Linked DNA regions of Homo sapiens: region 2 is linked to region 1. Evidence: fine-mapped expression QTL. A gene starts in region 1. The other region holds a variant in brackets. All regions are shown on one strand. Distances are from middle to middle.

Region 1 (4,395 bases):
TCCATCTCGGGACACTGACACTACATCCAAAAGATATATCTCTTGTGGCAGGAGATATACGCAGTGTATACTGTGTTTTTACATCAACAAATAAGTTTTTTTTTTAAAAAAAGCTTTATATTCTGTCATTTATATTATGAACACATTAATTATTCAAATACAAAATTATAATCACAATTTTGAAAACACACAAACCACTGAGCAATTACGATATGGTCCCCTGGAGCATATAGCTACCCTCTTCTGTAAAAAACACGTTACAGAAAACATGTTTACTGACGTAAAGTGAGCCCTGGGGCAAAGTAAACTTTTAAAGGGATCAACATATGAAATGTGTTTTAGCTGCTCAAATATCATGATTACTATCCTTAAAATAATCACACTAAGTGACCATTTCTTAAAACAGAAACTGTGAAAAACTGAAACTAAATTGCTGAAAATAACAAAACTCATTTGGATGAAAAAGAATAAAACATTGCTGACTCTGGGGTTGTGATCTGACAAGTTGGAAAACATTACCAGGACTTCCTGCTTCCATTTCTGACGTGGTTTCTAGGCTTGTTAGGTCTTTATGAAACAGTCGTCTTACAGTTCTGCAGCCTCTTGTGTCTTGCCACCTATAACCATCTTCATTTTCTTGAAAGGAGTCTTTTCTTTGTCGGTTTATAACAGGAATTCTAGGTCCAGGTTTGAATTCTCTCCAGTTGTCTGAATTACCAGTATGTTCATCAGACAGCCATCTCTTACTCTGATCTTTGTGGCTGTCATTCATCCAAGCGGGTTGACTGTAGATTGGGTTTTTAAATGCATATGGATTGCTGGAAACAGCACATGGTCCTTTTCTGGGGGTATTCCCATAGTTCCCTGGTGTTATCTTCTTTTTTTGAAGGCCCTTTTCCATTTTACTGCCATGGCCTTTAGCATGGTCATCTATTATTAAATAATCTTGTTGGGGGTGACCCCTTCTGAAGTCATCATCATCCATAGTCCCCCGGTCTTTAGTGCGCTTCACGAAATAAGGTTTTGCTGTATCTCCCATGGTCTTTGACTTCAATTTTCTTACTTTGCACCTGAAAGAAGGTATTTTGGGGAAATATCAAACTATATAACAAGATATCATACAAGTATACAAAATAACAATTTATCGTACAGATGCCCCAAAGCCTGTAAGAAAGAAACTCCCTATTTTTTTAAAATAAAAATTCTATCACATTCTTAATAATCAGTGCTTTACCCTAGAGGTTGGGAGGCTTGGTCCTCTAATATTCTTCATGAAAATTAATACTTACTATTTAGCATGAAGATTAAATGTGTGAATAAGAGAAGCTCTATAGGTTCCAGAACTGTAGCATAGTAGAATATTACTCATATCAAGTATGGTCGGCTTTTCCCTCTGTAACAAGGCGTTTCTCTTCAAAGAAAACCTCATCCCAAGCCAATATTATTACTAAACTACCGAAACAGTCTTTTGTTTTTTAAGTTGGCAATTACTTGTAAGTGTTATACACCGAAACTTTACGTGAAAGGAGTACTACATTTCTCAACTCCAATTTTCCGTCCCTTCACCACCCCTATTCTGGACAGACCGGCTTTGAGCGCTTAGGTTACGGAGGGGCTGGGCTTCCGACCAAGGTGCAGCTGTAATTAAAGAGGCTGGGTTTCCGATCAAGGGACAACTCCATCTAACCTCCTCAATCCCCGTTCTCCAACCCCAAACAAGTTTGGTTTTGTCAGGAACAGCAATTCCCTGAGGAATGACACTCCTCTTCAATCCCCATCTGACCGCTCCACCACCGATCTGCCTTAGTTTCCACCCTTTTGAGCCCGACGTGGAGAAAGAGGAGGCGTCCCTGCACTCCTGGCCAAGAAGCCACCGTGGGGACCAGGAAGCAGGAAGTGACCTGCTGTCTCCATGGGGTTCCAGGGTTCCCCCGGCCGGCCAGGGGGCCAGAGCCGAATGTCTTGACCCAAATCCCGTCTTCTGCGCCCGCAGTCTGACAAAAAGTGAAAACACGGACTCGAACCCGAGGGCTCAGCCTCTGCCGGCCTGGGGGTTCCTCGGTCACCCAAACTGGTGCGAGGAGGCCGGCGGGGGATGGAACCAACGTACCTCCGGGGCCAGGCCGGACAGCTACTCTGGAGTCCAGGAAACCAACTGGAGAATCAGCCCGGAGGCGAGTCTGGCAGGGACGTTGGGAGAAGGCGCCCAAGAGCACTCACCACCTTCGCCGCGGTCCCCAGCCTCTTCCTGTCCCGGCCGGGCTCCCTCTCCGTGTTTTCCTTCGGCCCCACTTCCGGCGCTCAGCGCTGTCTCATTGTGCGCGATTGGGAGCCGACTGTGCCCCCGCCCTAGCGCTCCGCCGCGCACACCGGAAACGAGCGACGCGCCCCGCCCCGCGGTGCCCCGCCCACGCTCCGACCCCGCCTCCCGCGCCTTTGCCAGCCTGGCCTCTCCTGTCCGGCGCCCCAGCGCACTCGCTCCAGGTGTCGGGCGCCGGGTCTGGCCACCGGGCGCAACCGTCGGAGCGGGCTAATTACTGGCTCGCCGGATAGCCGGTTCGCCGGCGCTTGGGGGCCAGGCCCGAACTTCTTACCAGAGCGGCGCCCGCCCCTTTTCTCTCCCGGCTTCGACGCTCCTCTGGTTCCCCTCTCTGCTCGGGAGGCTAAGTGCTCGGGAGAGGCGCGGGAGCCAAGACTTATGCACCCGGAGAGGGACGCGGAGCCAGCGGTCGGGCAAAGCCGCATTCCCCGCGCTTGGGGCCTCGGCTTTGCCCCTGGGTGCTCCCCGGTTACTTCCAGGGGGAGTAAAGGCTCCGAGGCCTCGTAGCGCTCTTGGTGTTTTTCTGATAATTCGTAGTGATTAATGTTTTCGTGAATTCTTAATTGCCGACCTTGTAGAAATGCCAGCATTTAAACATCCACTGCTCACCCAGATCTCAAAGTGGTCAAGGAAAATGCTCTGCTTTTTTCTTAGGTTGTGTAAGGATTACTTTTACTTGGAAAAAAAAAAAATCAGTTCATTTCGAAGAATATGTGTAATGGCAAGGGATGACCAGAGAGCGTTACATTCGAATTTTTGAGTTGAAGAGTGCACACCTCGAACTCGGGGTTGCTTTTTCTTTCTTTACTGTATGACCTTCCTTGCTGTTTACAGTGTTCTAAATGCTTTGAAAAACATCAAGCAACTAGTGAAATTAGGGAGCGTTGGGAAAATCGACAGTTTTCATTTCTCTGCTTTTTTAAAGCATGTAAATTGAAAGCTGTCAGGTCCTGTGGAGCAATGGTCTTAAAATAATAACACACAAAGTTCTGGCTATGCCAATAACTGTTTTGAAGGCTTTACAAATATTAACTCCTTTGTTTTATATTTTTGTAGAGACAGGGGTCTCCTATGTTGCCCAGGCTGCTCTCCAATTCCTGACCTCAAGCCATCCGCCCAACTTGGCCTCCCAAAGTGTTGGGATTACAGGGGTGGTCCACCATACCCAGCCTTAACTTCTTTAATCCTCACAGCTTCATGAAGACTATATCATTATCCCACTTTTAAAGATGAGGACATTTAGCACTTGCAGTGAAGTAAATGGCACTGCTGCAATCCAGACCCTGAATATGAGGCTGTTATTAACCATGTGGCTATACTAAAAGTGATATAAAACACATTCCTACAACTTTTATATAATTCCTTACTTAGATATTTTGATTGTGAAAATACGTGAGGATCAAACTGATAGTCTCTTCAACAGGCAGACAGTGGCCTTGAAAATATAGTCCAAAAGGGAGTGTGGAGATGCATGATTACATTAATTCTGAGACAGCAGCGTCACCACGCCCCACCCAAACCAGTAATTCCTGTGCAAAAGAACTGGTTTAGAAATCTGCCTCCACCTAGAGTTCTAGAGTAGCAGCAGAGGATACATACTTTTAAGGATTTTTTTTTTTTTTTTGAGATGGAGTGCCACTCTGTTGCCCAGGCTGGAGTGCAGTGGCATGATCTCCGCTGGCTGCAACCTTTGCCTCCACCTAGAGTTCTAGAGCAGCAGCAGAGGATACATCTTTCTAAGGATTTAATTTTTTTTTTTTGAGACAGAGTCTTACTGTGTTGCCCAGGCTGGAGTGTAGTGGTGCGATCTTGGCTTACTGCATCCTCTGCCTCCCAGGTTCAAGTGATTCTCCTGCCCCAGCCTCCCAAGTAGCTGGGATTGCAGACAGGCACCACTATGCCTGGTTAAGTTTTGTATTTTTAGTAGAGACGGGGTTTCACCATGTTGGCCAGGCTGGTCTGGAACTCCTGACCTCAAGTGATCCACCGGCCTTGGCCTCCCAAAGTGCTAGGATTACAGGCGTAAGCCACCAGGCCTGGCCCGATTTAAAATACTTTTGCCAGGCACTTTGGCT
Region 2 (4,395 bases), 32 kb after region 1:
TGTCTGTGAAAGATTTTATTTCTCCATCATTTTTGAAGGAAAGCTTTGCTGTGTACAATATTCTTGGCCAATAGTTTATCTTTCAGGACTTTGAATATATCATCCTGTTCTCTCCTGGCCTGAAAGGTTTCTGCAAACAAATTCACTGTTAGTCTAGTGGAGATTCCCTTATAGTTGACTTGATGCTTTTGTCTTGTTGCTTTTAAAATTCTTTTTTTTTGTTTTTGACTTTTGACAATTTGAGTATAATGTGCATCAGAGAGAACCTGTCTGGATTAAATATATTTGGGGTTGTTTGAGCTTCTTGAACCTGGATGTCTATCTCATTCTCAAGACTTGGGAAGTTTTCTGATATTATTTCATTAAGTATGTTTCTCTCACCTTTTTTCTTCTTTTCTCCTTCTAGAATGTCAACAATATATGTATTTTTTTCACTTAGTGGTGTTGCATAAATCCTGTAGGCTTTCTTTATTCTTTTATTATTTTTTTCCTTTTGGCATACCTGTGTTATTTCAAAAGTCCTTTCTTCCAGTTCAGAAATTCTTTCCTCTGCTCAGTCTAGTTTGTTGTTGAAGCTCTCTTATTCATTGAATTCTTTGGCTACAGGATTTCTGTTTGGGTCTGTTTATTGATATATATCTTTTTGTTGAATTTCTTATTCAAATACTAAATTGTTTTCCAAATTTTGTTGAATTGTCTATCTGTATTCTCTTATATCTCACTGAGTTTCTTTAAGATTATTATTTTGAATCCTTTTCTGGTATTTCATATATTTCCTTATGATTGGGGCCTGTTACTGGAGAATTATTATTTTCCTTTGGTATGTGACATGTTTCCTTGCTTTTTCATGGTTGATGTGCCCTTACGTTGATTTCTATGCATCTTAAGGAAAAGTAGCCTCTTTGTATTTTACAGAATAGGCTTTGTATGAAAACACTTGTTCAGATGAATGGGCCTTAGAGTGTTGGTTTGGTGTGGTGTGTATTGGCCTTGGTTCGAGGTTGATACAGAAGTGTAGTCTGTGTAATTTACTCAGTTGTAATCCACACTAGTGGTGTTTGTGTTTCTCAGTGGCCTATGATGAGAGAGTTTGTGGTGATGGCAGTGCAGCTTTGCCAGGTTCTACACACATGTACATAGGCATCCCTCTGGCTCAAGGATATATTGGATTTTTGGAGGCTCTGAGGCCTTTCCTGCTTGGGGGAGGGTAACTGGCAGTGATTTGGCCACCTCAAGGGTAGATTTTCCCTGGATGGTACTGGCCAACTGTTCCTCCAGCTGGAAGTTTGGTGAGGGTAGGGGGAGTTGGTTACCCTGTTGCACAGGACCAGAGTCACAGCGGTCCTGGGACCATGCTCTGTACAGCTAGGATTGTGACATTCAGCCACCTATGTGGGCTTGGTGGAATGAGGATGGAGCCCCAGTGCTGGAGAGCCACATTGGCTACTGGACCCCAGAGCAGGGTCCACTCCAGAGGGGGGCTCTGGTCTCAAGACAGTGCTGTGCTACAACACCTTGGCTCACAGTGGGTGAGTGGTTGGGTGGTGCACACCTTATCCTACTAATCTGGGGCAATGCAGCTGTGTGAATTCCCACCAGCTTTCCAAACTGGATTCAGGGCTTGCAAGGATTGTGAGATTCTTCTGATGTAAGGACTTATAGGTGTTTGTGGCAGCAATGGGGATAGGTGGGGCTCTTCTGCTTGACTTTTCCCTACAATGCAGAGTCTCTTCTGACTCCAGGCAGATGTGACCCATGTTGGGGAAACGAGGCTACAGAGTCCTGGTGCCTCCATGCTGTCCTCCTCCACTTCTAATCACCACAGCTGTACCTCTAACTCACCCACTGCACTCTAGCACTCTCCCTTTGACACTCCATTCAAATCTTAGCTCTGTAGTTATTGCCTTGGTCCTTTCTTGCTGAGGTGGGGTTCTGAATGTTTGGTGTCTCTTGGCAGGCATCTTGCTGTTTCTTTTCCTAACTCAAAAGTCTTCTTCTTAAATCAGTCCCTTGTAAGGGGGATGCCATAAGCCTTAAACCAGGGTTTCTCTACCTCAGGACCATTCTCTTTTTGGGTTGGATAATTCTTTGTTGTGGGTTGCCCTGTGCATGGTAGGATGTTTAGCAGCATTTCTGGCCTTTACCCACTAGATGCCTCCCCTCACATTATGACACTCAAAAATGTCACATTTTAGGTATTGCCGAATATCTCTGGGGAGAAAATCACCACTAAGTTGAGAACCACTGCCTTAGACCATCAGGTCTACCCTGGAGCTAGGGGCATGGGCCAGCTTGCTTTAAGGGCACTTGAGTTACATGAGGGAGAGTGAGATATTGAATAAAATCTGGGTCCTTTCCTGAAGGAGAAAGGTGAGAATGGATGGCAGCCAACAACGTTCATTATACCTACATTAATCAAATATGTCTCCAGATCTGGAACATATTTCAGCTTTCCTGTAAATCAGGCTATATGTGGGAAAATTGAAAAATATGTTTAGAATTTTGATGTTTGGGCAGAGAAGAACTTCCAGTAAGACATCAACCATTTTTAGAATATCAAAGGAGACAGAGGATCCTTTTTCTGCCCTATGGTTGGTGGAAGAC[G/A]GAGAGAGAAGCTCTACAATGCTGTATTGGGAAAGAGGCAACCTTCCTAAGGGTCCTTGGGGTCTACTTATACAGTCTTTGCAAAGACCTTCTTTTAAATTAGGCTTAGACTGGACTTTTCTGACTTCTGTGGCTTGAGGAATAGCAAAGAACTATCAGGATCTCCTGATTCTCCCTGCCAAAGAGTCTCTTAGTTTAAATTATTCCAGATATGTTGTGTAAAGCAAAAAAAAAATTATTTCCAGAGCACGTTTTTAAATCTTAGGAAAATCAGTGAGATAGCATACTTGTAGTAATTAAAACCTAGGATTTGCTATTCTAGAATGAGTCATTTATTTATTCATTCATTTTATGTATTCAGCAAATGTTGAGTGCCTGATATGTGCCTGTTATGTGAGGAAAACAAAGTCCCAGTTCTTGCAGCGTTGAATATCTGGTAAAGGCAACACATGTCCTGAAATTGAACACCTAAGACCTGACTCAGATGAATGTACTTTCTCCCCTAAAATTGATCTATTCCTGCTCTGGCACCCTACTGGCCTCTAGGAACTATGGAAACAAATCTTGAACTTACCAGTTAGTTTATCTCAATCTTTTCAAATTTAAATGATGTCTTCTCTGGTTCCACCTTTTTTGGATAGATGCCTCATTGTTCAGATTTCCTTCTTCACTCCCCTTGGATGCCCTCTGAGGATGAGATGAGCTACAATTGTATGATTGGTAAAAAGAGTCCTTAAATACATATCCATAGGTTCGTTGGGAAGCTCTCTTGCTTTTCTGGTCTTTCCAGTCTCTCTCCTTAGCCATCTTGTTGATATCTGATCCTGAGGTTTAAGACTCATGAACTAATGGCACGTTCTCTTGCCTTAGTTCATCTCCAGTGGTTTGCTCCTTTTGACCCACCCTGCACTTTCAGGCCCACTTTCAGAATGCGTGGTCCACCCTTTCACCCTAGGTGTGGTAATCTCTTGGCTACTTTGCCACTTGTCTTCCATGGCACCATAAAGAATCCAGACACACCTGGATTCCTTCCAAGAACACATAAATCTCAAGTATGCCTGAAAGTTCCAATTTTGGCTTTCCCTTTTTGACCATTCCCTGCTGTTATTTTTACAATGCTGAAACCATCCTACGTTTCCATTAAGTGATCTACTTCCCCCGATTCCATGCTGGGCATGGGTCACCTGCTTTACAATTTGCCCTCAACTAATCTCACCCCCAAAGTGATTGGTGGAAGTTCTGCTTTCCTTCCTGTTGCCATGGAGACCAGCCACCCTGTCTTTCCCTCCTCTCCCCACTTCTAAGTCTCAGCCATGTTTTTTTCTGTGGACATTGAATACCCAACTCCCAGCTGTTTCTTAGATCCCACAGCTATGCCTTTCAAACTGTCTCCATGGGAATAGCTCTCTTCTCTCCACACTCATCAAATGCTATAGACTTCTTGCTAACCATGGACTGGACCTCAGGGCTTGCCCAGGGTTAGACTTTTCTAAACGTCTCCGAGAATTCACTAGATCTGGAAGCTGAGTCCATTCTTGGGCCACAGGGCTACTTCCACAGAGCCTGTAGATCACCCATCACTGCTCAAAGCTGGGGCTATCCTCTGGCTTTCAGACGCATCTCTAGGCTATCTTCATCTTTAAAGACTCACCCTGCAGCAGAGGCCAAGAAACTGCTGCCTCCCACCTTATCAATCAGCTGTGCACAGATGGAGGTCCCTCTCCTAGCCCTGGACACAGAGATATGATGGAAAGAAATACAGATTCTTTAGAGAATCTGTATCTCCTTCAA

Evidence for each region. PIP is the estimated chance that this variant, and not a neighbour inherited with it, causes the effect.
Region 2: its variant is the best candidate, but not a certain one, in a credible set for the expression of TUT7 in whole blood (TOPMed, PIP 0.89).

The regions. Positions count from the first base shown.
Region 1 is chr9:86,352,161-86,356,555 of GRCh38, forward strand. TUT7 (terminal uridylyl transferase 7) reads right to left here and starts at 2,250. Exons shown (of 27, transcript NM_024617.4): 1 at 2,111-2,250; 2 at 520-1,070. The coding sequence starts at 1,039. RefSeq lists an enhancer at 2,099-2,308 and a silencer at 2,329-2,508.
Region 2 is chr9:86,384,179-86,388,573 of GRCh38, forward strand. No RefSeq gene overlaps it. Among named protein-coding and RNA genes, the nearest start is that of TUT7, 32 kb to the left of the region's middle. The variant G/A (reference allele first, on the strand shown) is at 2,605.